Linked DNA regions of Homo sapiens: regions 1 and 3 are each linked to region 2. The links come from fine-mapping of genetic effects on gene expression. A gene starts in region 2. Each other region holds a variant in brackets. All regions are shown on one strand. Distances are between the middles of the regions.

Region 1 (8,175 bases), 30 kb before region 2:
AGTGCTGAACTAGAGCCCACGCCACATATTTGCAGCCACACATTTGCCGAGTGTCTGGGGCTTTTGGGGCTTCCTGCCACACTGCCAGGAAACAGGAATCTGTCTGCAGAGGGCTTGCAGTTTGCTTGGGGAAGTGTAAGAGTCATTTCAAAGTGACCCATTAATAAGCGAGAGCTGATGTAGTGTAAACCCTGCCAAGACATGCTGGGGAATGAGGCAGAAAAGAGTGACTGCTGAGTCTGGTCCCAGGCACCAGAGTCCTTACCTAGTGCCAGTGCTTGAGACCAAGCCGAGGCTGCTGCTCACAGGTACCTGCCCCATGCCAGGTGGGATGCAGGAGGGCCAAGCAGCTCCTTTATTCAGGTATAGAAACAGGCTCAGGGATGTACAGCACTTACTCATCCAAGGCTGTATTGTCCCAGTGCTTAGTTATCTCATTTCATCTCAGTCCATTCCACAGAGGAGGAAGCTGAGGCACTGAGGTTAAGAAAGATGCCTGAGGCAACTAGTAGGTCATTGAGCCCAGCTTTCAATTCTGGCTGCACTTCGCTTCCGCAGTAGGACAACAGGTAGAACATTTAGTTCTGAGAGGTCAGGAAAACAATTACAAAGTATCAGGCTTGAACTATCACACTGGCCCTGGAGAGGGGAGCAAGGGATGAATAATGATTTAAGGCATAATAATTAACATGTTCGGGCCAGGCGTGGTGGCTCACGCCTGTAATCCCAGCACTTTGGGAGGCCAAGGTCGGCAGATCACTTGAGGTCAGGAGTTCGAGACCAGCCTGGCCAGCATGGCGAAACCCCGTCTCTACTAAAAATACAAAAAGAATTAACCGGGTTTTGTGGTGCATGCCTGTAATCCCAGCTACTCAGGAGGCTGAGGCAGGAGAATCGCTTGAACCCAGGAAGCGGAGGTTTCGATGAGCTGAGATTGCACCACTGCACTCCAGCCTGGGCGACAGAGTGATACATCTCAAAAATAATAATAATAATAATAAATAAAAAATAATAATTGACATGTTCAAGGCATTTTCCCTGTGCCAGGCACTGCTCTAAGCCCTGATGGTGCACAGAGGTGCCAGGGGGCCTGGATGGTGGCTGGCTCCGGGTCTGACCCAGGCCTGGTAGAGCCTGCCTGGAAATTGCTCGGGGGCTGGTGATATGTTCCATTGCTGGGAGCTGGGACTTGAAGGAAGGCCAGATCTCAGAGTGCGCCAAGGAAATCCTGTGCAGGGAGGAGCAGGCTGAGCAGCGGTGCATTCACTCAACACGTACTTACTGCACATCTCCTCCATGTTGGGTGCTGGGGATTCAAAATGGAACATACTCCCTGCCTCCATGGAGTATTTAATATGCAAATGTGCCTCACGAATCTGCAAGGGGAACATTGTCCGGGTGGCATGGATTTAATGTAAACATCGTTGCAGCCATTGTCTCCTTGAAGCCTCACCATAAACTATCCCTGTTTTATAGATAAGGCAACTGAGGCATAGAATTTTTTTCCCCCAAATAAATTGCCAAAAGTTATACAGGTAGTCAGAATTTTGTATCTAGATGAATCTGACTGGCAAGTACCCACCCTTGCTGTGTACATGAATGTTCTGGGGATGTCTGTTGAGGAATGATGCTAGAATTGTGGTTAAGAGAGGGGTTAGAAGCCAGTGATCCTTGCTCTGGACCTCAGCTCTGTGCCTTGCTCAACTTGTGACCTTTGGCAAGTTACTTACTCCTCTGGGTTCTTTTTTTTTTTTTTTTTTGAGACGGAGTCTCCCTCTGTTGCCTAGACTAAAGTGTAGTGGCGTAATCTTGGCTCACTGCAACCTCCATCTCCCAGGTTCAAGTGATTCTCCTGTCTCAGCCTCCCGTGTATCTGGGACCACAGGCACACACCACCATGCCCTGCTAACTTTTATATTTTTAGAAGAGACGGGGTTTCGCCATGTTGGCCAGGCTGGTCTCGAATTCCCGGCCTCAGGTGATCCGCCCACCTCGGCCTCCCAAAGTGCTACGATTGCAGGTGTGAGTGACCGTGCCCAGCCTCCTCTGGGTTCTTTGTGCTATTTTTAAGATGGAGATAACAGCACCTAGTTCAACAAGATAGCTGTGATGATTAAACGAGAAAATAGGCTGGGTGTGGTGGTTCACGCCTATAATTTCAACATTTTGAGAGGCTGAGCGGGGAGGATCACTTAAGCCCAGAAGTTTGAGACCAGCCTACCAGCGAGACCTGGTCTCTATAATAAACACAAAAGAATTAGCCAGGCATGGTGGTGAGCGCCTCTAGTCCCAGCTACTCAGGAGGCTGAGGTGGGAGAATCGCTTGAGCTGAGTTTGAGGCTACAGTGAGCTATAATTATGCCATTGCACTCCAGCCTGGGTGACAGAGTGAGACCCCGTCTCTACAAAGAAAAAAAGAAAAAAGAAAAGGAAAGGAAAAAGAAAGAGAGAAAATATAGAAAAACGACTTAGCACAGAAATAAACAGTAGTTCCATGGAAGACCCTCTGCTCAATTTCTGACCTTCCCTCTGATGTGGGGGGAAAACACTTGCTGTTGGACGGTTTGGGGGGTCGCTCTTCTGGGCCTCCCTGGCTTTCCCTATAAGGGTCGAGAGGCTTTTGAGCTAAGAATAGATGTCAGCCTTGTGCCAGCCAGGGCTCTCAGCTCTGCAGGACAAGGGGAAGAGGAGGCGGGGATGATGAGAAGGAAACAGGCTGACCAGCAGGCTAGAGAGATGGAGCCCACTCACTCGTGTCTCTTCTTGGCTACAGGGAGTGCCTGGAAACAACGGTTTGCCAGGACAGCCTGGGCTCACTGCAGAACTGGTGGGTACTGGCCAGGACTCCCTGTGCATGCCCCTTCCCTGCCCTTCCCAGGGCTGCTCAGGCTATGAAGCTGGCCCGGTAGCTGCAGTGGGGGTCCCTCTTCTCTCCCACTTCTGAGGCTGGAAGGTGCATGACGTGTCCCAAGGCTCTCCCTGATCCCATAAGTCTCCATGTTCCTTCCCCTCACCTGCTTGAGCCCACACATCTGTCTCTTGCAGGGATCCTTACCAATTGAACAGCACCTCCTTAAGGTAAGAGGGTACCCAGGAGGGAAGTGTGAGCTGGCGGGGGTGTCTCCTAAGGGGATTCTCTTAGTAAGTGCTCAGCTGTGTGGCACCTCGCAGAGAGAGCAGCAGTTTGCAGGGAATACGCATTCCAAGCATCTGTCTAAGAGGGCCTAGCTGATGCCTGGCTTGTAACAGGCCCCCAGGCAACATTTGCTGAATGAGTGCTTAAAGGAATCCTGTGAAGGTGCCCACATGGCAGATGCTGTCGGCAGAACCCAGCCCTGAAGCCTGCCCGCAGCAGCTGGCAATGAGACCCCGTAGCACCCGGGTCACCCTGCGGCAGAGCCCAGCAGCTTCCAAAGCAAAGCAGAGGGGGTGAAAGTGCAGTGGTGGGGGGCTGTGAGATTGGGTGTGGCCTGGAAGAAAGCTTCAGCTGTTCTCTAGTCAATCCAGAAAGAATCCAGGGAGGAGATGGATTTGAGAAGCACTTCTGGTAGTCTAAGAAAGGGGACTTCGGACCTGGTCAGAGGGTCGGCCTGTGCCAGGGCCTGTACACAGCCTTAATGCTCTACCAGAGGGCTGTGGCCTGGGCCGGCTTCCCAAACTGAGCAGAAGTTCCTATTGGAATCAAGAGTCACATAGCCCATCTTTGCTTAGTCACCTCTAGAAACGAGAGCACAGTAATTCCCCAGGTTGCCTTCAGGTTTTTGAAGGAGGCCCTTATGTTCCTGGACTTTCTCTCCTCTAGCCCAGCATCCTCAGGGGTCTTTCCCATGTGTTGGCCTCCAGAGCCCCCCCTCATCCTGGCCACCCTCTTCTGACACTGGCTAATTAGTGCCCTGGACATCCCATGACCCCGATGGGCCTTGGTCAGGGCAGAGCATGGGGGCTGTCTACCCCTTCCCTGCTCTGAACGGCAGATTTCTCCAGAAGCAGCCAGAGGAGGTCGGGGTAACCTCTTGGCATCAGTTACATGTTGGATCACAGTGAGGTTGTGGCAACGAAACCCCCAGCTCTTCTCCCCTCTGCTTCTGTCAATGACTGGGCAGTGATCGTGTGACTCCAAATCCAGGATTTGACATTTCTCCTGTAACATTTCATCTGTTGGCTTCTTCATCAAGTGCTCTTCAGAGGATTCCAAATAGAAAGTGCGCATAGTGTGGAGAAGGGGTCAGATGGCACCCCGGGGCATGCTGACCCAGAGCCCCAGCCACCACCTGCACCCATAGTCCAGGAAGCCTGGGGAGAGAGCACTGGCTGTGGCCTAGGACAGGCCCACGCCAATCCAGGCTCCCACTTTCCTTAGACAAGTCACGCCGCCTCTCTTGAGTGGGCTTTCCCATCTCCACAATGCTTATAAGATTCCCTGTCTCACTGCGCCGTCAAGATGGCATGTGATAATGTGCAGGGCTTATTATGTACAATGCCCAGCGTCATGGGTGCTGAGTAAATGCCAGTCGTTATTACTGGGCTTGGTGGTGAGCAGTGAAAGTGAGCAGGGGCTCCTGCCTGGGCATCTGTGGACACGACACTGGCCACAAACAGGCTCCGGGCTCCTGAGTCCTCAGAAATTGCAGGCTGGTTTTCACTAGTGGGTTTGATTTTTCTGAGAAAAGGACCCATAGCTTCCATCAAACTCTCAGAGGGGTCTGTGACCCAAAGAAGGTTAAAGCCCTTCCTGTGGGGAAGACAATTCTGGTGGCGCGATCCGAGCCAGGAGCCTGTGAGCAATCTGAGATCTGTCCCAGGGGCTCCTGGGAAGGGCCTGGCTCCTCCCGCAGCTGTTCCTTTGCTCCCTTGGGCAGAGAAGCTGGCGTTCGGAGCCAGCCTTTCCAGCCTCACTCCTCGTGGCTTGTCCTCGCAGTGGGTGCAGGTTGCAGGAACAGCCGGGACAGATGGTCCCTCTGCGGGCCCCTCGCCTCCACCCACATGCCTGTC[T/C]GGAAAGTGGCTTTGGCTTAGCTGTACCAGAGCTTCTTCCTGGAGGAAACTCAAAGCCAATTGTTGGGAGTGGGTCCCCCGAGGATGGAGCAAAGCTGCCGCAGGGATGCGGCTGGGGAGGGAGGGAGTGTGGGAGGAGGGAAGACGGCAGGGCAGGGAGCCCTGGCTCTGGGTTCTCACTGGGGCTCCCCAGTTGGCCCATCCTGCCCATCTCTAACCCAGGCCCCACTCCTCTCCCCACTCCCTGATCAGAGTATCTGCGGGGACTGTGTCCAGGGGCAGAGGGCCCACCCAGGGTACCTCGTGGAGAAGGGAGAGAAGGGAGACCAGGGCATCCCTGGTGTGCCAGGCCTCGACAACTGCGCCCAGGTAAGGGACTGGGCTTGGGGCTGCCCTATGCAGGAGGGTTCCCTGGCTGCCTCATCAGACAATGTGCCTCTCATTGTCCCTTGCAGTGCTTTTTGTCACTGGAGCGCCCAAGAGCCGAGGAGGCCCGGGTGAGTGCCTCGCCTTATCTCCCCCGATCATGCCCCATGCCCCACAGGGACAGGCCCTGACTGCTCACTATCACCGTCTCCATCCTTCTCCAGGGTGACAACAGTGAGGGAGATCCTGGCTGTGTTGGGAGCCCAGGCCTACCTGGTCCTCCGGGATTGCCAGGCCAGAGAGGAGAAGAGGTAAGACCAGGGATGGGGATTCATCCTCAAGGGAGCTGGGGCCCTGTCTGCCTTTGAGACCTCTTGGGGGCCTCCGAGGCCTCACCTGACTGATGCCCTTTACCACTCTGGGCTCATCTGCTCTCCTGGCACGTGGCTTCTCTGGGATACACAGGACCCAGCGTAGGACACACTCTTTCTCCCCAGTGCCCAGCTGCATCCTCTGCCTGCAACGCTCTTCTCCAGGGCTTATTCCTGCACTCCTTCAGCTCGGCTCAAATGTCTCCTTCTCAGAGAGACCTCCCCTGACCACCCTCTTTAAAATTGAACTCCACACCAACCCCAGAGCCTCCAGTCCCCTTGGCCTGCATCATACTCATCACCATCCAACATCCTGCCTATTTACTTCATTCAGGAACATTCTACAGGTGTCAGCTCAACACCAACTATGTGCCAGCTCCTGTTCTATTTGTTAGTGTCCGTCTCTCCCCTAGAATGTAACTGCTTTGAGGCAGGGGTTTTTATTTATTTTGTTTATGCTGTGATCCTAGCCCCTGGACTAATGCCTGGTACGTAATAGTTGCTTGTTAAATGTTTGTAGGATGACCGAATGGGCCAAATGAAAGATTGTTCGAACATCAGCTAAGTGGTCCTGCTTGGACAGCAGCCACCCTCTGTTGACCTTGGCCCTGGCAAGCTGGGAGGAAGGCTGCTGGAATCCCAGGGGCTCTATGGGGCCTGGGCCTCTTCATCCATTTCCCTTGGCTTCCTTTGCAGGGTCCGCCTGGCATGAGGGGCTCCCCGGGTCCTCCAGGCCCTATCGTAAGTATCAGTGGTGCCCTGGTCTGCTTGAGAAGCTCTCAAAGGGGTCATTACACTCAGACACCATCCCGCGGCCTTGTCCCCAAAAGGCTGGGCAAGGCAGGAGGAGGGAACTTCCACTGCCCTCCCCATCCCTCCGCAGAGCATCTGCAGGGACTGTGCTCTCCCACCACCGGATGCCCTGGAACCGCCCTGCTCTGCCTACTGCCTGCGGTCCTGCTTAGGGGAGGTCCTCAGAGGCACCTCTTTGCTTCCCTGTCCCCACCCTCTGCTGCGCTTTCCACAGTGGCCCCAGGCCGCCCTCGGCAGGGGGCCTAGGCTTCAGGCTCACAGCCTCCCAACCAGGGAAGCATGCGGCATGCTGGCCAGACCTCTCCATGCCCCTGTGACTCCAGTCCCCACAAGGGCTCGGGGCTAAGATGGAGCTGTCCTCCATTGCTCTGTAGGGCCATCTCTAGGGTAAATCTACAAAAACCAGACCAGGGTATCTACTCTGGAGTCCTCTGTGATGTTGACATGGCAGGAAAATAGAAGTGACTAGGAAAGATTGAAAGAACTGAAAATGCTTTCTCTGGAGAAGAAAATGGCTGGTGGGAGCTGTCTTAGAGCCAGGGAGCCCCCCACTCGGGGGACAGGTGGAGGTCGGGTGGCAGGCATGGTGGGCAAGGCTGAAAGAAATGGGCTTCTGCTGCAACCGGATCTTCAGTTAGACTCCGGAAGACTCAGGAAGCCCTCTGACTCTGGAGCCATTCCGCATCTCCGTCAACGGAGGAGCCATTCTTCCTGGAGCCAAGGGGAGGAACAGTTGTCTTTTGAGCCAAGACTTTCAAGGAGTCTCTTTTCCAGCTGCCTTGAAAATACTCCCATGACCTCCTCTCCCCATGACCCCCAAGCCCCAGACTGTGCCCTCCAGGCTGTCCCAGGGTTACTGTGCCTGTGAGATGTGACCTGCCTGTTTCTCCCACCAGGGCCCCCCAGGTTTTCCTGGTGCTGTTGGCTCCCCCGGATTGCCTGTAAGAACCTAGCGCTGCTCGACCTCCCCTCCCCCCCGTCAGCCAGGTCTCTGTGGCTTTTGCTTGTCTCCCTCCTGTCGTGCCTTCACCTCCGTCCTCCGTGTTTGTTGTCCCCCTTCAGGCACGGTAGCTAACGACACGGGTTCTCTGAGGTCCCGGCAGCTTGGACATCCTCCCAGTCTCTGACTCCTTTCCGTTTTCTCCTCTCCCTCCTCTCCTGCGTTCTTTCTCTCCTCTTCTCTCTCTTACCCCGTTCTGTCTTCCTTCTCCATTTCTCGCACCATCTTGCAGCACTCCCCCAAGTCCTCCTGAGCTCGTGAACCTTCCTCTTAAGCTGGTGCCTCTAGGGGGCCCCTCCATTCCTGCCTTCTCGCTCTGCCTCCTGCTTCTCACCACCTTCGGCGTTGCCTGAAGATTTGCTGAAAGTAGTTCTTGGGGCCCTGCCAGGCACCTGGCTCAGAGCCCAGCAGAGATGCCAAAGCTTTAGGGCTTCACATTGCAGGCTGGCACAGGTTTGCTGCCCTGCTGCTTGGCAGGGCTGTCCAGAGGCACCCAGGGATTTAAAGGCAGCCCTTCCTGCGCCTTTTCCGTCGTCCTAGAGGAAACTCTCAGCTGCCTCCTCTTCGCTTCCTCTTCCTTGGCTCCAGTCCCAGTCTGCTCCAAGGCGGGGCATGTGATATCAGCCAGTTGGG
Region 2 (8,175 bases):
GGTGAAAATTAAACAACACATAGTACTTAGCACAACGTCTGGCACCTAGTAAGCACTCAATACATGATAATAATAACTACTAACATTGAATTCATGCTAGGCACTATTCTAGGTGCTGAGGTTAGAGGACTACATAAGAAAATGACAATTCTACAATATACATGTAAACAAAGTGGACAATTCAACTAGTGACATGTATTATGAAAAAATAAGATAGATGATGGGAATGCTTGGGGGGCAGTGTCAAGAAACTCCCCCCACCCCAGGTGATATCTGAACTGAGACCTGGATGATAAGGAGAAGCCAACCAGTGAAAAGTCAAGGGAAGACTATCCCAGACAGAGGGAAAAGCTAGTCCAAAGACCTGGAGGCAGGAATGAGCAGGCAGTCAGAGACCAGCCAAAGCCAACATCCAGGAATGAGCTCTGTACATTCCAGGAATGGCACAACCAGGCCGGCATGGCTGGAATGAGGCAAGGGGGACAGCAACAGCAAGAAATGAGGCTGGAGATGCTGGTATGTGTGGCCATGAATGTCATTAGGATGAGTTTAGCTTTTATTATAAGAGTGATGGGAAGTCCCCAGGGAGTTGAAGCCAAGGAATAAGATAACCACTCTGGCTGCCTGTGGAGAAAATGAAGCGTGGGGAGAAGAGTGAGAGCAGGAACATTGGTCAGTCGGCTATTGTAGTGATCCAGGCACGGATGATAGTGTCTTGGACTACAGTGATAGTGCGAACAGGGAGAAAAGAGCAGATGTGTACATGTTTGAATTAGAGCAAATGGAGATGAGGGAGGTGAGGGAGTGTGTGGAGAAAAAAAGGACACACAGGAATGATCTTAGGTTTTTGGCCTGAGAGACTGGGTGGATTTTCTGAGATGGAGAGGAATGGGTTTTGGGGAAAACACCAAAAGAAAACTCTTATACAAGGCAGGCTGGAATACCACACAGTGACAGTACCAAGTGCAAAGGGGGAGTGGCAAGAGAGAGTGGCTAACTCTGGAGCTAAGGGGAATGTGGGAGGGTTAGGTGGAGAATGGAATTGGAACTGAGCCTTGCAGGACTGGAGTTGGGAGGGCTGCTGGTCCAGGTGAAAGGAGTGGTTTGAACCTAAGTTTGGGGCATGAGCAGGTATAATAAGCTCATTTTCAAATTTACACATTTGTTCCTGTCAGCTAAGAAAAGTGAAATTTAGAGAGGTTAAATAACTTGCCTAAATAAAATGTGGTAGATATACACTGTGGAATACTATGCAGCCATAAAAAAGGAACAAGATCATGTCCTTTGCAGGGACGTGGATGGAATTGGAAGCCATTATCCTCAGCAAACTAACAGAGAAACAGAAAACCAAACACCGCATGTTACCACTTATAAGTGGGAGCTGAATGAGGAGAGCACATACACCACTGGGGTCTGTCGGAGCGTAGAGGGAGGTGGGAAGAGGGAGAGCATCAGGAAGAATAGCTAATGGATGCTGGGCTTAACACTTGGGTGATGGGATGATGTGTGCGACAAACCACCATGGCACACATTTACCTATGTAACAAACCACATCCTGCTCATATACCCCTGATCTTAAAAGTTGGAAATTAAAAACAAACAAACAAAAAACCTGCCTAAGGTGATACAGTTAGAAAGTGATAAAACAAAGATCCTCCCTCCAAAGCAGAAGTGCTGAATGGTGGAACTGAGCACAGAAATACAGAGTAGCAGAAGGGGCCGTAAGATTGGAAAGTTGAGGCTGGGCCAGATTCTGAAGGGCCTGGAGTACCAGAATGAAGAGATTGGGCCTTATTTTGTAGGCGTGGATGAAGAGCATCCATTGTAGGCTGTGTAGTGGGCAAGTGGCATGATCAGCACTGTGATTTTGGAAAGTGCACTTGGTTAGATAGATGGACTAGACTGGATAACAGTTCGTAACATTCATTTATTCATTTATTTTAATAATCGTGTCAGTCGCTATACTAGGTACTGGAGTTATAATGACAAGCAAAAACAGACAAAACCCTAGCCCACATGAAAGAACTTGACAAAGAAATCAAATAAGCACACAAATAAGTGTAGAAACGGAACCACTGAGTGGCAAGTACATGGTGCTGAGATCACTCGGTCACCAGGATTTGACCTACGATGGGGACCGACCTAGACCTCCCTGCTGAGAACTGGACATCCATTGACCCCGGTTCTAGGCGACCCACTGTGAGCTAGGGCAAGGCAACTGCCTCTCTGCACCTCAGTTTCCCCATTTATGAAGAAAGAGGCACTAGATAATTCAATTTTCCTCCAACTCTAATGATCTGGGGTTTTTTTCTCCAAAGACCACAGATCTGTATCCCACTACAAGGGTACTAACTGGTACCCAGTACCTTGACATTAGAGGAGTAATTCCGCCATCGCCTCTCCCTACCGGGAAGAGTCGGTCGGTTCCCCGTTGTCAGGGCAACCGCCTGGCCACCGCCCCTCGTCTCCTTTCCCGCGGCTCATCTGCGGAAACTCAGGAGCTACTCCAGCAATTACGTCACTATCATGCGTCCCATTTGCCAGGTTATAACATGGCTACCGCAGCAACACCCCACCCAGGCTTCTCACTAAATTTCCCAACCTGACCACCTCTTCGGCCCACTCCACCTCAGGAAAAGGAGGAACATTAGCGCTGGTACAGCCGCCAAGACTTCCGGAAGCTCCATCAATCACTTAGCTCCCCTGGTCTCTCGGGTAGGCATCCGCCCACCGCCCCCATCGTCACTTCCGTCGGCCGACAGCACCCAAGATTGACAGGCGCGGACGTCCAATCAGATGCGGGCCCAGCCCCAAAGCCGAGACGAGGGGCGGGTTTGAGAGCGGAAAGCCCCACCCCTTGCCTGAGTGTGACGTCAGAATCACCATGGCCAGCTATCCTTACCGGCAGGTGAGTGTGTGAGGGGCCCGCGAATCCAGGTAGCGGCGGTGCCAGGCGCAGGCCCGACGTCCCCCTGCTCTTTCTCCCCGCTTTCTCCGCGCCCTTCCCACGATGGGTTCGCTTCAGCGAGGCCTTGCGCTGTAGAGAACCGAAAAGGGACCGTCGGTCGCGCCCTGCTCACGTCATGAAGGACCGCACATTCGCGAGGTCGTGTCGCGCCCCCTTGACGTCGCTCACTCGAGGATTTGGGGACCTTGGACCCCACAGGTCCAGGCTGGCGCTGGCCTGGGCTCCACAGCCTCCCAAGGCCCTCATGGGGGCCTTGGGCGGGGGCATCAGCCATGACCGGAGGTTTAGAGTTCTGGTTCCGCCGATCTCATTTGGGGCGTCGGATAAAAATCCAGGCTTCCGGACCCACCCCACACTGCATCAGAGTCATCAGGAAACTCTGGTTGTAGCAGGCGCCACAAGTGAGCTGGTTTGACCACTGACTTAGTTCAACACCGCCATTTCGCGTGTAGAAAAGTGAACCCCGAGAAGACACAGAACTTACCTGAAGTCACCAGGCAGTTAGGCAGCAGGGCCGAGGTCAGAACCCGGGCTATCTTCAGATGCCTCTTCCCCAGCGTATCTTGATTCAGTCAGGAATACCGCAGCAAGGTGATTCTGTGGCCAGAATTCTTTGTTGGGTGATAGTAGGGTGTTGAAGTGCACTTTGGTGTCAGAGGTAGGTTCATATCTTAGCTCTACCACCTAAATAGTTGTGAGCCCTTGAGCAAGCTGTTTTGCCTTTCTGAGTCCAAGTTTCCGCCTGTAAAATAGGGCCGAATAATAGGATCTGCCTCATAAAGCTGTTGTGGAGAGTCAGGAGGTGATGCTTACGAAGCGTTTGGTACATAGTGAGGTGTAACATGTGTTGCCCTTTAGCATTTTGATTTTTAGTAGACTTCTAAAAGGCCAGTGCCCGGAGGGTCCTCAAAATAGAGCCCTCATTTTACAGAGGAGGAAATGAAGCCCACAGAGGGCTGCGATCACACAGTTATTTAGGAGATGAAATCCATAAACGAAATGTGGGAAAACAAGATCAATTGGTATATTACACAGTGCTCAACTGAGTTTAGTCACAGGCCAAAAGATGTAACAGTCCTTCCAGGGAGTGCAGTCTTGTGCGGGTTACACAGTGTTTGGACCTCCATTATCCTAATCATGAAGTCCCTATCGGCATGCAGGTATTATTACCCCTAATTAACTGCTGAGGAGCAAACCCAAAGAGGTTAAGTGGCTTCCCAAAAGTCACACGTAGTAAGTGAGGGTGAGGCCATGACCAGAGCTTAGGACTTCTCTTATTGCATCCTTAGAGAGAGGTAGGAAAGAGAGAGGCCAGTGCGGGCTGGAGTTAGGAAGTGTAGCATAGCAGTTGCTTCCTAAAGTCCATTCCATTTGCTGAGTCTTGGGAGGTTTTAATAGATATTGTTAATATAGGAGGATTCTGTAGTTAACTAAAGTTTTGGAAATACTCTTAAGTATAGCTGAATAAGTTTATTGACCACAAGCTATTTCAGAATCCTTAATTTGCTAATGTACATTGTAAATCATCCAGAAAGGAATATAATATGCAGTATTTCTTAAACATATCTAACCATAGAAACTCCGCCTCCCGGCTTTCTTTTCAGATGTCTGGTCACTTTTTTGACTCTAGTATTTCTGAGGAACACAGGCTGAAAAAACATTCATAGCGCCTTGTTTCCCAGTGGCTGGTCTTCTGCCTCAGAATCAGCTGAGAGCTTGTTTAAGAAAGCACACTTTTGGGTCCCACTTCAGACCTGTTCTGTACCCAGGAATCTACATGCTAATAAGCATTAGGGACAATTGGTGTGCATCCTAAAAGCAGTGACAGGTTAGAGAGAACTGTGCTAGAATTCTAGCTGTATTACTTAATAGTTATATACCCCTGGACAAACTAAGGGCTCTGAGCCTCAGCTTCCTCACCTGTATAAAGGGAGAAATAATACCTGTGAAAAGGGCTAAAATGAGGTTAAAATGCAGGGAGCCTGGCGTGTTGCTAGTGCCTAGTACATGCCAGTGTCTGGTGGCAGCTCTTGCTGCCGTGACTGCTCTCATGATGCCATGCTGCCTGGGCTATTCCTGGAGTGAAATACTGAAAAGGAGCACAGAGAGAAGAGTCTGGAATAGAAAAAGAAATGTTGTTTTTTTTTCCTACCATACCCTTGTCCGCCTCCTGGTCTCAGGTGTTCTAAGAAAGGAAACGAGTTGTTTTAAAGCATCTCAGTCAGTGCTGCCTCCCCTCCACCCACTACATAGCTTTGGAGGATTCCAGCCTATTGTTAGGAGTCAGAATTCCTGTAATTTTCCACTGCTTCCAGTCCAGGGTACCCAAGCAGGGACTGGGTATTGGAGTAGTAAAATTCAAGCACCCTTTGGTCCTATGGGGGAACGAGCTTGGTGGATTTCAGTGCTTAAGAGCTTAGTTTTTGAGGCCAGAGAGAGTTGATTTCAAATCCCTGCTTTGTCACTCCCTTGCAGAAGTTTGTTGCAAAAGTCTGAGACTCAGTTTTCCCTTTTTTGAAAAAAATTTTTTATTTATTTGTTTATTTTTAAGACAGAGTCTTGCTCTGTCGCCCAGGCTGGAGTGCAATGGCACAATCTTGGCTCACTGCAACCTCCGTCTCCCGGGTTCAAGCAGTTCTCCTGCCTCAGCCTCCCAAGTAGCTGGAATTACAGGCGCACGCCACCACACCTGGCTAATTTTTTGTATTTTTAGTAGAGACGGGGTTTCGCCATGTTGGCCAGGCTGGTCTCAAACTCCTAACCTCAGGTGATCCACCTGCCTCAGCCTCCCACAGTGTTGGGATTACAGGCGTGAGCCACCACGCCTGGACTAGTTTTCCCTTCTTTAGAATGGGGTCATAATAGTATCTACCTCAGAATTACTCTAAAGATTAAATGAGAAAATCCACGTAAAGTGCTAGGTATGGTGTTGGGCATGTAGAATACTCCAAGTGGAGGAGTAATGCAGTTATGCAGATTGAAGAGGCAATGTGATAAGTATTCAATGGGAGTAAGTGTAAGGTACAGCACGGGAGAGTGAGATACCTAACTCAGTCTAGGGGTGCATTTTTAAAAGAGGTGATATTTAAGCCAACAACTGAATCACTGGTAGAAATTAGCTGAGTGAAGAAAGGAATGCTATTCCAGCAGAGGAAATAGCTGCACAAAGCCCATGAAGCAGGTAAGACAGCCTAGTATTTTGGAGGAACTTTAAGAAGTTCAGTGTAGTTGTAGTGATGTGGGGGAAAGGGGTAGGAAATAAGACTAGAAAGGTAAGCAAGGGCCAGATCCCAAAGGGCCTTGTATGCCTTTTTGGGGAGTGTGACTTCATCCTAAGAGTAGTGAGGGAGCCAGTGAAGTGTTTTGTCCCATTTGTGCTTTGGAGTGCTTACTGTGGGGTGCTGTGAGAATGGATTGAAGCAGGAGAGACAGGAGGCAGGGATACCGGTTTTGACGCTATTGAGGTAATCTAGGCTAAAGAGAACTGTGACCTGGTAGAGGAGATTTGAGAAGCACTTGGGAGGTAGATTTGAGAAAACTTGGCCTTAGGTTTGGATGATTAAGCAGAACGGAGCTCCATTCACTGAGATGAGAACACAGGGAGGCATGGGTTTGGAGGGAAGGTCCAGTAGGCTGCTGGATATGTGGGTCTGTAGCTCAGGAGTGATGAAGCTGGAAAGATTTGAAAGTGTGAGCACAGAGGTAATTGAAGTCTGGGGATGGTTCTTGGCTCATTGTTTATTGGTTGCGTGCTTCTCTCCTATTTCAAGTGGCTCTGCTGGTGAATGCTTGAACTGTTCCTCTTGTCTTCCTGTGATTGTTTAACCCCTTAGTTTGGGCTTCCCACCTCCTCCTGTGCACTTGAAGGGTAGCTCTGGGGTACAAACTTGTCTTTGCAATGCTCCCTCCTCCATTCGTCATCAGGGCTCAGCTTGGAACAGCCGTTGATACCTTTAAGCTTCACAGGGGTCTTGAGGTTAGAAGACTTGAGTCCTCAGAACTGGAAAGAAAAAAAAAATACCGGACTTTCTGAGGTGGTTATTTGGGAGGAGGTAAGCTCCCTACTGCTTGCGCAAGTGCAGGTAGAGATTCCAGGTGGTTCTGCAGAGATTCCATTATTAACTGAGAGGTTGAACTGAAGAGTCTTTGGGGTGTCTTCCAAAATGTGGCTTGGCTCTCAAAGTGACTCTAGGTGCTGGGACGAAAAAGAATGAGATTTTTCTAAGAGTCCCTGATTTCTGGGCTTGAAGGCTCTGAGAGATCACCCAATCCAGCCTTCCCCTCTACCTCTGTCCACAGTAGAAATTCATTATATTTGACAAAGACATTTAGCACAGTCCCTCACACAGACACATGCTAGGCACTCACTCATTTATTGAGTGAACAAACAGAAGGGGGTAGTGTAGAGTCATGCAGACCCTGACTTGAATCCCAACTTGCCCATTCTAGCTGCATGATCTCAGGCATGTTATTAAACTCTCTGCCCCTTAATTTTCTCATCTGCAAAATGGAGATGACACTGTTTACCTCACAGGACTGAGGATTAGTGAGAGCTGGTTGAACTGGAAGCACCTAGCAGAGCCTCAGTAAATGTTTGTTGCCCCCAGTCCCCCCAGGGCATCAGATGTAGCTTATTTGCAATCAGCCAGAGCCCTAGAGATAGTTTTTCTGTGTTGCTTCAGAAGCTGCAGTTACTGAACTCTTCCTGTCCTTCCCCTCCACCTGCCTTCACAATCCTGTTTATCAGTATGAAATAACTCTTGGAAAAACTCTAAAAAGGGCTGGGAGCATGGAGTAGTGTAAAAGAACGTGGAGTCAGGGATGCTGTTTTTCATTTCTGGTTCAGACCTTTGCTAACAACTCAGTGACACTGGGTGACCCTCTGTGAGGTGGGGACCACCTCATCTTCTTCCCCAAACTTCCTGTGCAGCCTGCATTCTGTCTCAGTTGGCTCCACCTCCTTCATCTTGTGCAAAAGCTAGAAACCCGAGTCATTCTGAACACTTTCCTCACTCCTCCTCCATCTCTTTCCTAATCTAATTAGTCACCAAGTCATGTCTGGTCTATCTCTGAAATAGCTTCAGAATCCATTCCGTTCTCTTCATCCCCAAGTGTGCTGTCTGGTTCATGCCCTGCCTGCCCAGCACCTGGGCTACTGCCTCCCTCACTGGCTCATCCTCCACACCGCCGCTGGTTACTTCTCTAAA
Region 3 (8,172 bases), 52 kb before region 2:
GCAGACCTACCTTCTGTCTTTCCCCTGTCTCTGGCCAGCAGTGGGTGGGAACAGGTCTGCATCCTGTGGGCACTGTGAGAACACAGGATGTGGGCGGGAACCTGGCAAGAGTCATGTGCGTGTGTGCATGTGTGTGTGTGCGCACATGCGTGTGTGTGCACCCATGTGTGTGAAGTCCAAATTCCCACAAGCCCTGGCCTGGCCCCTGCTTGCCTCTTCAACCTCAGCTCTCAAAATGCTCTTTTTTATCTCTTGCTGCTCTGGTCATGCTGAACCCTTTCCATCTTTTTTTCAGTATCTCTCCTTCCACCCTTGCTCCAGTTATTCACCTAGGGTATTCTGGGTTCATTGGAAGCACTTATTCAAATTGCAATGCGATAGCGAAATAGTCATTCTGGGGATTCTTTGCTCATGGCCTCCCTGCCCCCATCAGACGTGAAGGCTCCATGAAGGCAGGCAGTGCCTCTGTATTTTCACCACTGTGTATGTGGGTTTTTTGTTTGTTTGTTTGTTTGGTTGGTTGGTTGGTTTTCTTTTTGAGACCAAGTCTTGCTCTGTTGCCCAGGCTGGAGTGCAGTGGCGTGATCTTGGCTCACTGCAACCTCCACCTCCTGGGTTCAAGCAATTCTCCTGCCTCAGCCTCCCGGGTAGCTGGGATTACAGGCGCCTGCCACTACACCTGGCGAATTTTTTGTATTTTTAGTAGAGACGGTGTTTCACCATGCTGCCCAGGCTGGTCTCCAACTCCTGGCCTCAGGTGATCCGCCCACCTCGGCCTCCCAAAGTGCTGGGATTACAGGCATGAGCCACCGCACCCAGCCTTCACCACTGTTATTCCCAGCAGCCAGACCCGCACCTAGCTCGCGGAAGGCACTCAGTAAAGGTATGGAGAGTGAATGAATGTATATGATGGAAGATGTGTGCCTGTGGATGTCTTGGGTAGGCTCAGCAGTCCTGAGGGCTCAGGGTGGGCAGCATTTGGGTCCTCATTGGAGCCTCAGGGCACCCTCCCTGCTCCATCTCCAGAAGAGTATTCCCTCGGGGTCTCCCGGAGGAGTTTGCCCTGGTGCTGACACTACTGCTGAAGAAACACACCCACCAGAAGACGTGGTATCTGTTTCAAGTGACCGATGCAAATGGGTATCCACAGGTGAACCTCCCCTGTGCCCTGATTGCCTCTTAGGGCATTGGGTAGCACCAGTCCAGCCCACCTTTCATCCCGGCTTGTGACTTCTGGGGTCTCCCTGCTCCATCCTGTGCCTACCCTCAAGCCTGTCCCCAGCCCACCAGTACCTACCTCATTCTTTCAGGATGTATAGCTCCTTGACCCCAGCCGGCTTTCTTCTCTTTCTGGGCCTCAGTTCCCCTCCTGTGAAATGAGTTCAAGGTCCCTGAACGTGCCCATGGTGTGACTCTGGAGCTCTGAATCTCTGTCCTTTCCCTTTCCAAATTCTACCCAGATATCCCTGGAAGTCAACAGCCAAGAGCGGAGCCTGGAGCTCAGGGCCCAGGGCCAGGATGGCGACTTTGTGTCCTGCATCTTCCCAGTGCCCCAGCTCTTCGACTTGCGTTGGCACAAGCTGATGCTGAGTGTGGCTGGACGTGTGGCCTCTGTGCACGTGGACTGCAGCTCAGCCTCCTCCCAGCCTCTGGGGCCCCGACGACCCATGAGGCCTGTGGGCCATGTATTTCTAGGCTTGGATGCTGAGCAGGGCAAGCCTGTCTCGGTGAGTGCTAGGTCAGGCCCTGACCTCTGTTCCTGCCTTCTGGGAACCTGAGTGGGCTTCCTGGAATCCGTATCGGAACAAGTCCTTCTCCTGCTTAGAATCTTCCCCTGCTTTCCTGTTGCCCTCCAAATGCAGCCTAAACATATTCACCTGGCATTCAAGGCCCTTCATGATCTGGTCCTTATAAGTGTCTGCAGCACCATCTTCCTTTACATCTCTCCGTGCAGCTCTGCTCTGATCAATTCCATCCTAGCCATCCAGCGCACCCAGTGCTTTCACACTGCCGTGCCTTTGCCTACGCTGTTACCTCCACCTGGAATGCCTTTCCTTGCATACTCATCCGCTGAGTAGCTACCAGCCCTTCAAAGCCCAGCATGAATGGAACCTCCTCCTCTTTTGTTCCTCTGGGCCTCCTCTCCCTCGTTCCTGTGTGCGCAGTTTTGTTCTGCCTTTGGTGACAACTCTATTTTTGATGTCTCCCAGGCCAGACTGGAAACACCCTGAGGTCACATCCTGGGGCAGAGACATCTCTGTGCCTCCTGGGGGGCCAGGACACAGAGCTATTTGATAAAATGAAGTGAAATTGATGTGTGTGTCTCCTGCAGTTTGACCTTCAGCAGGTGCACATCTACTGTGACCCGGAGCTCGTGCTGGAGGAGGGCTGCTGTGAGATTTTACCAGCAGGGGTGAGTGGCCCGGCCCTTGGGCTGCCCAGGGACACACTGTGCTGGAGATGAGGGTCTGGAAGGTGATGCCTGGAGGTCTTAGGAGGAGTCTGCTCCTGTACTGACCCTAGCCCCGCTCTTCCACCAAACAGTGCCCCCCAGAGACCTCCAAGGCCCGCCGGGACACCCAGAGCAATGAGCTCATTGAGATCAATCCACAGTCTGAAGGCAAGGTCTACACCCGCTGCTTCTGCCTGGAGGAGCCTCAAAACAGCGAGGTGGGTGGGCAGGACAGGTGGATGCCAGCACAGGCAGGCACAAGTGAGATACCCCTCCCCTGAGCTGACTGACGTCTGCCACCAGGGTCAGTTGGCCATGGGCCCAGGGCAGGAGGGGCACTGGAAGCCCTCCCTATTTGTACGCCACCCCTAAATGATTCAGGGAGGCAGAGACAGCCCACTGGCCACCACTGGGTGGCCCTGTGCCCACCTACCTATGGGTGTTGAGAGTGGTACCATCTAGCTCTGGCACTGCCTAGACCCTCACGGATGCCATCCAGACTCTTCTGATGAGGGCAGGACCAGGCTTGTCCCTCAAAGCCAGTTTCTCCAGAACAGAGATACCTGGGATCAGAGGTCAGGTCATACTGCTTCCCCCCAGGGATGGCTCACTCTCCTGGGCCCAGCGCCGGCCAGGGCCAGACTGGTTTTACACCCAGCACCATGGCCAGCTGTCTGCCCACTCTCAGGTTCTTTAGAGGTGGCATGGAAGCCTGGTTCCTCCTTTAGCCCCACCCCCTGGCTGGGCACTCTCCCTGCCCGCTCGGGCATCTTGCCCAGCCTTGGGCTGCAGGAACACAGGATCCCATTGATGCATGGTCTTGTTGGCTCTGACATCAC[A/G]TGGGTGGGTGGGGGGGGAAGGAGGGGGACCTGTTGGGGCAGCCACAGGGGCCTGAGCAGGCCCTTGATGCCCCAGGAGGTGCCAGATGCCAGGCTGAAGGATTACCTGGGGCCCATGCCCCCTGCCTGGGTGCCCCTTTCCAGCCTGGACCCCAGAACTTCCCCCTCCTCAAGGGTTTCTCTTTGCTCTGTCTGCCCAGGTGGATGCCCAGCTGACGGGAAGAATCAGCCAGAAGGCAGAAAGGGGAGCAAAGGTAGAGGTGGGGGTGGGGGGAGGAGCCTACCTGCCCTCAGTCTGCCCTCTGTGCCCCTGTAAACCCCAGGGATAAGGTGCTCCACTCCCACTCTCCTCCCGCCTTTCCCACCTCCTGGACAGAGCTTAGGACATGTAGGTGCCAGCTCTGATCAAGAAGGACGGATGGGGGTGAGACAGACGCAGTGCCTGGCACTCTCTAGAGTGCCCACTCCTGTTGGTTTGGGGGTAGGGGTGTTGGAAACAGTGCTCGGCCCCCTGAGCTCCCTGCCCATTCCCACACCCCCCACCCTTTCCTCAGGTCCATCAGGAGACAGCAGCCGATGAGGTAAGCCTCCCAGTGGACTGGCAGCAGGGGAGGTGCCAGCATGAACCCTTTGCACCAGGCTTTGGGCACGGATCCTCAGCATAGGGGTGCTGGCTGACTACACAGCTCCTGGCATTCCTTGAGGGCCTGATGCTGGGCCCTGTCTGTCCACTGCCTCTCGTTGGGTTGGGGGGTAGGTAGCCCTGGAGGACACTCCTGCTGAGTTGGCAGCAAATGGCCACGGGCATCATGGGGAGAGCCCAGCCTTCAGCCACGGTGCCCTTGGATTCTGGGCCGTACTCTGCCCCAGCATGCTGTGTGACCTGGGGCATATTGCTATTCCTCTCTGGGCTTCAGTTTCCCCATCTGAAAAATGGCTGTGGGGCTGGGTGGGTGGGAAATGAGGGGTGAGGCTTGTTTTATAGGATTCCTATCTTCAGGCTCCCCTCAGATTCCACTCAAGATATGTGTGATGTTCTGTGGGCCTGGTGGTGATGGAGGTGGGGAGGGCTCACCCCAGGGGCTCAGAATTGACCTCTTCGCCTGCTCTTCCCTTTCAGTGTCCGCCCTGTGTCCATGGTGCCCGGGACAGCAATGTGAGTGAATGGAGGGTGTGCAGGGTGGAGCGGGCAAGAGCCGGGAGTGGACGTTGCCTAGAGCTGGCTTGGCAGCCTCCTGGGTGAGGACAAGGGGGTCTTTGTACACTTTCACACTCGCTCCCTGCCCATCTCCCAGAGCCGGGCTTAACCCCCACTGCCATCTCCACCAAGCCAGGACTGTGTGGAAGAAAGCCTGTGACCTGCCTTGTCATCTGCAGTGTGTTCGGGTTCAGGGCATGGGCACGGGATGGTGGCCGGCAGGACCAGCGCCTTGGTTGCTGATCGCAGCTTTGCACTCCCTGCAAGTTCTCCCCCTGCCCTGGTGGAGGCTTCCTTCATTCTCCTGGAGGCCTAGAGAAGGGGAAGAGCTGGCTCAGCACGGCAAGGGCTCCCACAGCGTTGGTTCAGGGCCTGCTGTCTCTTTCTAGCTGGCCCTGGTCCAGCCTTCCTATGGGGGTCCAGAAGGGCAAGGAGAGGGGCTCAGTGTGAGCCCAGCTGGCACCCAACTGTGCCTCTTCCATAGGCAGCATGAGTCACCATTTTTCTGGGGCCTAACATTCTGAGTTGACCTGCCACATTGGTCCACCAAGGGCACAACCCCAGCTCCCCTCAGCTCTAAGCCCCCTGACTTTGGGGGACATCAGGAGTACCTCCTAGGCTCCCTGCTCCCTCTTTCAATCCAGTCCCCCACCAAATCTGTTAAGACTGATGGTCCCCAGATGTGCAGAGGTTACCATGGAAACCAAGCAGCCATGTTATCCCAGCAACTGGGAGGCGGAGCTAACCAAAGCCAGGCAGTTTAGAGGAGGTAGGTTAGACCCTCTGCAAATGTTACAGGCTGAGGAAATGGAATCGGCTTGCTAGTTTGCCTGGGAAGCAGAGCAGGGGCTGGGATACAGGCTGCTGGTCCTGCTACCATGCTGTGTGACCCTGTCTAAATTGCTTGACTTCTCTGGGCCCCTGGTTTTCTCTCTCTACCGGAAGTGTGATGCCCTCTCCTCTGTCCCCTCAGGTCACACTTGCTCCCTCTGGCCCCAAGGTGAGTCCTAATGGAGAACGGGACATTCCCGTCCTCTTTAGCATCCCCAGCCATTCCCACAGCATGTGACCCTGTGGCTGTGTGTTTCTATCAGGGCCACCTGAGCCTGTATGTGTGTAGGGTGATTAAGTGTATGCGTGGTAAAGAAAGCAGGGGTTTGTGTGTGTGCAAAGATGCTAAGAGCTGCCCTTTTCTGAGGCCCTTCTGTGCACCAGGCCTTAGGCCACACCTATGCACACTTATTACCCTTTTGAACCCTCTCAATAGTCAGCCTGCAGGGTGGGTGCTATCATTTTACTTCAGGGGAAACTGAGGCCCAGCTGTGCCCACATATGTCTGACAGGGTGTGTTAGAATGATTATGTGTGGGTGTGGCTACATGCATCTCTGGGACACATGTTTGCATATGTGTGGCACACGAAGGCTGGAGTTGAACCCATATACCTGTGGGCCTAACGAGGCTGCAGAGCTTGTGAGTGATGGGGAGCGAAGCTATGCAACTGTGAGTTGTGCTTGTGTGTGCTCGTCAATACCGTTTTATTGATGAAGAAACTGAGGCTCAGAAAGGCGACATGACCTGCTCTGAGTGACATGCTAGCAAGTACAGGATTTGAAGTCAGGCAGCCTGACACTCAGCCAGCATGGGTTTCTGCCACCGTGCATGTGTGTGTCCATATGCCTCCGGCTGTGCTGTGTGTGAGCTGATGTGCTTGGGTACGGGTGTGGGGGATGGGATACCCCCCTGCTTGAGACTGTAGATTTGCCAAATATAGCATCTTGGGGTGGGAGGGCATGTGGATGAACAGGTGTGGAATCCATATGCTTGTGTGTGGTGGGGGGAGGCGTGGGGCAGGACACTGCTCACATGTGTGCGTATTTGCGTACCCGTGTGTGGGGGGATGGGTGGAGGGGGCCAGAAGTGGGGAGAGCTTTCTCAAGGCTCCCATGTGCCCCCTCTGGTCCTATCTTCCATTCTGGTTTCACTCTCAGGGAGGGAAAGGTGAGCGGGGCCTGCCTGGTCCACCAGGCTCCAAGGGAGAGAAGGGAGCACGGGTAAGTGTCCCAGCCCTGCCCGTGGCAGGACCTTTGCCAGCTGTGCCCTGGGGTGAGGTGGGATGTGAGCCATCATCCCATCATCCCGGCAGAAAGCCTGCAGCTTGGCCCAGATCACGGGAGGGGGGTGAGGGCCAGGGTCTTTCTAGGGGTTTGGGTGTAGAAGCCCCCCTTTTCTAGGGATACTTAGGACTATGGGGTTCCCGGGCCGATCCTCCTCACAACACATCTAGGGGACTTCCCCAGGAGTTCCCACCCCTGATCCCTTGTTCCCTACTCCCAGGGCAATGACTGTGTTCGAATCTCCCCGGATGCCCCACTTCAGGTAAGACTTGGAGGTGATGCCTGCTTCAGGGCCAATATGGGGCCAGCCCCTGGGGAGGGACTGTGCGCTTGGCAGCCCATCAGGTGACCCTCTGCCCCTCTCAACACTGTGTTCCCCTGTTCAGTGTGCAGAAGGCCCGAAGGGAGAGAAGGGGGAGTCAGGAGCTCTGGTGAGTGTGGGACCAGGGATAGGGCAGGGATGGTGGGTCCAGGGCCCAGCCTTACCCTCCCTTCCTCTGTCTCCCTTCCTCATCTCAGGGACCCTCAGGACTCCCAGGCTCAACAGGCGAGAAGGTAACAAGCCTGGATTTGGAGGGGGGATTTCCAGGGAGGTCTGCAGGCTCTACAGCCATGAGGAAGGAGGAGTCGGGGTTCTCTGAGGAGAGGGTGTCAGTGGGCACAGAGCTGGCAGGACCCTCCCTCCCCCATCTCCCCCACCCCAGTCACCCTGCCTCGTCCAAATACCCAGCCGACCTAGAGGGAAATGCCACAGATTCCCCCAGTAAGTGGCCTGGCTGGTTTGGAAGTTCTACCTGTTGTCTGGTCTGTTGTCTACCCTCCCGTGGTGATTGAAGCCATTCACCCTCAGGGGAGACAGAGACCAGGGGTCTAGAAGGCAGTTGTCCCTCCACCAGATGGAGCTGCCCAGCTGTCCCAGGCCCTTCCCTCATCCTGGTCACTCTGCTTCTTCCTTCCCCAGGGCCAGAAAGGCGAGAAGGGCGACGGAGGCATCAAGGGCGTGCCGGGAAAGCCAGGCCGGGACGTAGGTGCCTGGGACCCTTCCCCACCACAACCCACAGCACGGGGTCTGAGAATGCTGGGATTTAACCTTCGGGAATCCAGCCCCCTCCCCTTGCTCAGACAGGGTGGGGAGGGGCTGTGCCACAGGAGGCACAGCAAGAAGGGGACAGAAAAGGACCTGAGCCCAGGCCCCCTCACTCCCAGCCTCAGAGCCCCGAACCTCTAACACCATAAGGTTGACATGTGCTGACCTTGGGGCACCAGGGTGGGCTCTGGTTTGGGGGAGGGGCAGGGAGGGTGGGACAGGTGGGCATTCACCTCTCCCAGTGGGGCGGTGCCAGGCCTCAGGGCTGTTTGTACACCCTCCCCCTTATCCCCCCACAGGGCCGGCCAGGAGAGATCTGTGTCATTGGGCCCAAAGGGCAGAAGGTGAGTTGTGGATGTTTGTGGGGTGGAGATGGGGTGGCAGGGCTGGGGTGGCAGCTCTCTGATGCCCACCTTATGTCTGTGCCAGGGAGACCCTGGCTTTGTTGGGCCTGAGGGGCTGGCAGGAGAGCCTGGGCCCC

Direction of the effects. Positions count from the first base shown, and alleles are read on the strand shown. Sizes are in standard deviations (SD) of each study's normalised expression.
As copies of T replace C in region 1, the expression in cerebellum of the gene that starts at base 3,613 in region 2 goes down (large effect, 2.2 SD a copy in GTEx).
As copies of G replace A in region 3, the expression in prefrontal cortex of the gene that starts at base 3,613 in region 2 goes up (small effect, 0.28 SD a copy in BrainSeq).

What was found. PIP is the estimated chance that this variant, and not a neighbour inherited with it, causes the effect.
Region 1: its variant is fine-mapped to the expression of PEF1-AS1 in cerebellum (GTEx, PIP above 0.99). The same link has a PIP of 0.9 or more in cerebellar hemisphere.
Region 3: its variant is fine-mapped to the expression of PEF1-AS1 in prefrontal cortex (BrainSeq, PIP 0.95).

The regions. Positions count from the first base shown.
Region 1 is chr1:31,669,910-31,678,084 of GRCh38, reverse strand. It overlaps COL16A1 (collagen type XVI alpha 1 chain), which reads left to right. Exons shown (of 71, transcript NM_001856.4): 43 at 2,774-2,827; 44 at 3,046-3,078; 45 at 5,245-5,361; 46 at 5,448-5,489; 47 at 5,583-5,669; 48 at 6,426-6,470; 49 at 7,439-7,483. LOC101929444 (a long non-coding RNA gene) reads right to left here. Exons shown (of 2, transcript XR_001737631.2): 1 at 7,733-8,175; 2 at 7,018-7,253. Among named protein-coding and RNA genes, the nearest start is that of PEF1, 29 kb to the right of the region's middle. The variant T/C (reference allele first, on the strand shown) is at 4,993.
Region 2 is chr1:31,639,574-31,647,748 of GRCh38, reverse strand. It overlaps PEF1-AS1 (PEF1 and COL16A1 antisense RNA 1), which reads right to left and starts at 3,613. Exons shown (of 6, transcript NR_184313.1): 1 at 3,453-3,613; 2 at 2,903-3,037. PEF1 (penta-EF-hand domain containing 1) reads left to right here and starts at 2,873. Exons shown (of 5, transcript NM_012392.4): 1 at 2,873-2,908. The coding sequence starts at 2,885. RefSeq lists enhancers at 2,404-2,743, 2,984-3,053, 2,373-3,143.
Region 3 is chr1:31,691,461-31,699,632 of GRCh38, reverse strand. It overlaps COL16A1 (collagen type XVI alpha 1 chain), which reads left to right. Exons shown (of 71, transcript NM_001856.4): 5 at 1,027-1,150; 6 at 1,461-1,727; 7 at 2,333-2,413; 8 at 2,545-2,670; 9 at 3,492-3,545; 10 at 3,846-3,872; 11 at 4,412-4,447; 12 at 5,463-5,489; 13 at 6,479-6,541; 14 at 6,825-6,866; 15 at 6,991-7,035; 16 at 7,124-7,159; 17 at 7,566-7,628; 18 at 7,991-8,035; 1 more. Among named protein-coding and RNA genes, the nearest start is that of COL16A1, 8.5 kb to the left of the region's middle. RefSeq lists enhancers at 1-517, 2,662-3,171. The variant A/G (reference allele first, on the strand shown) is at 3,292.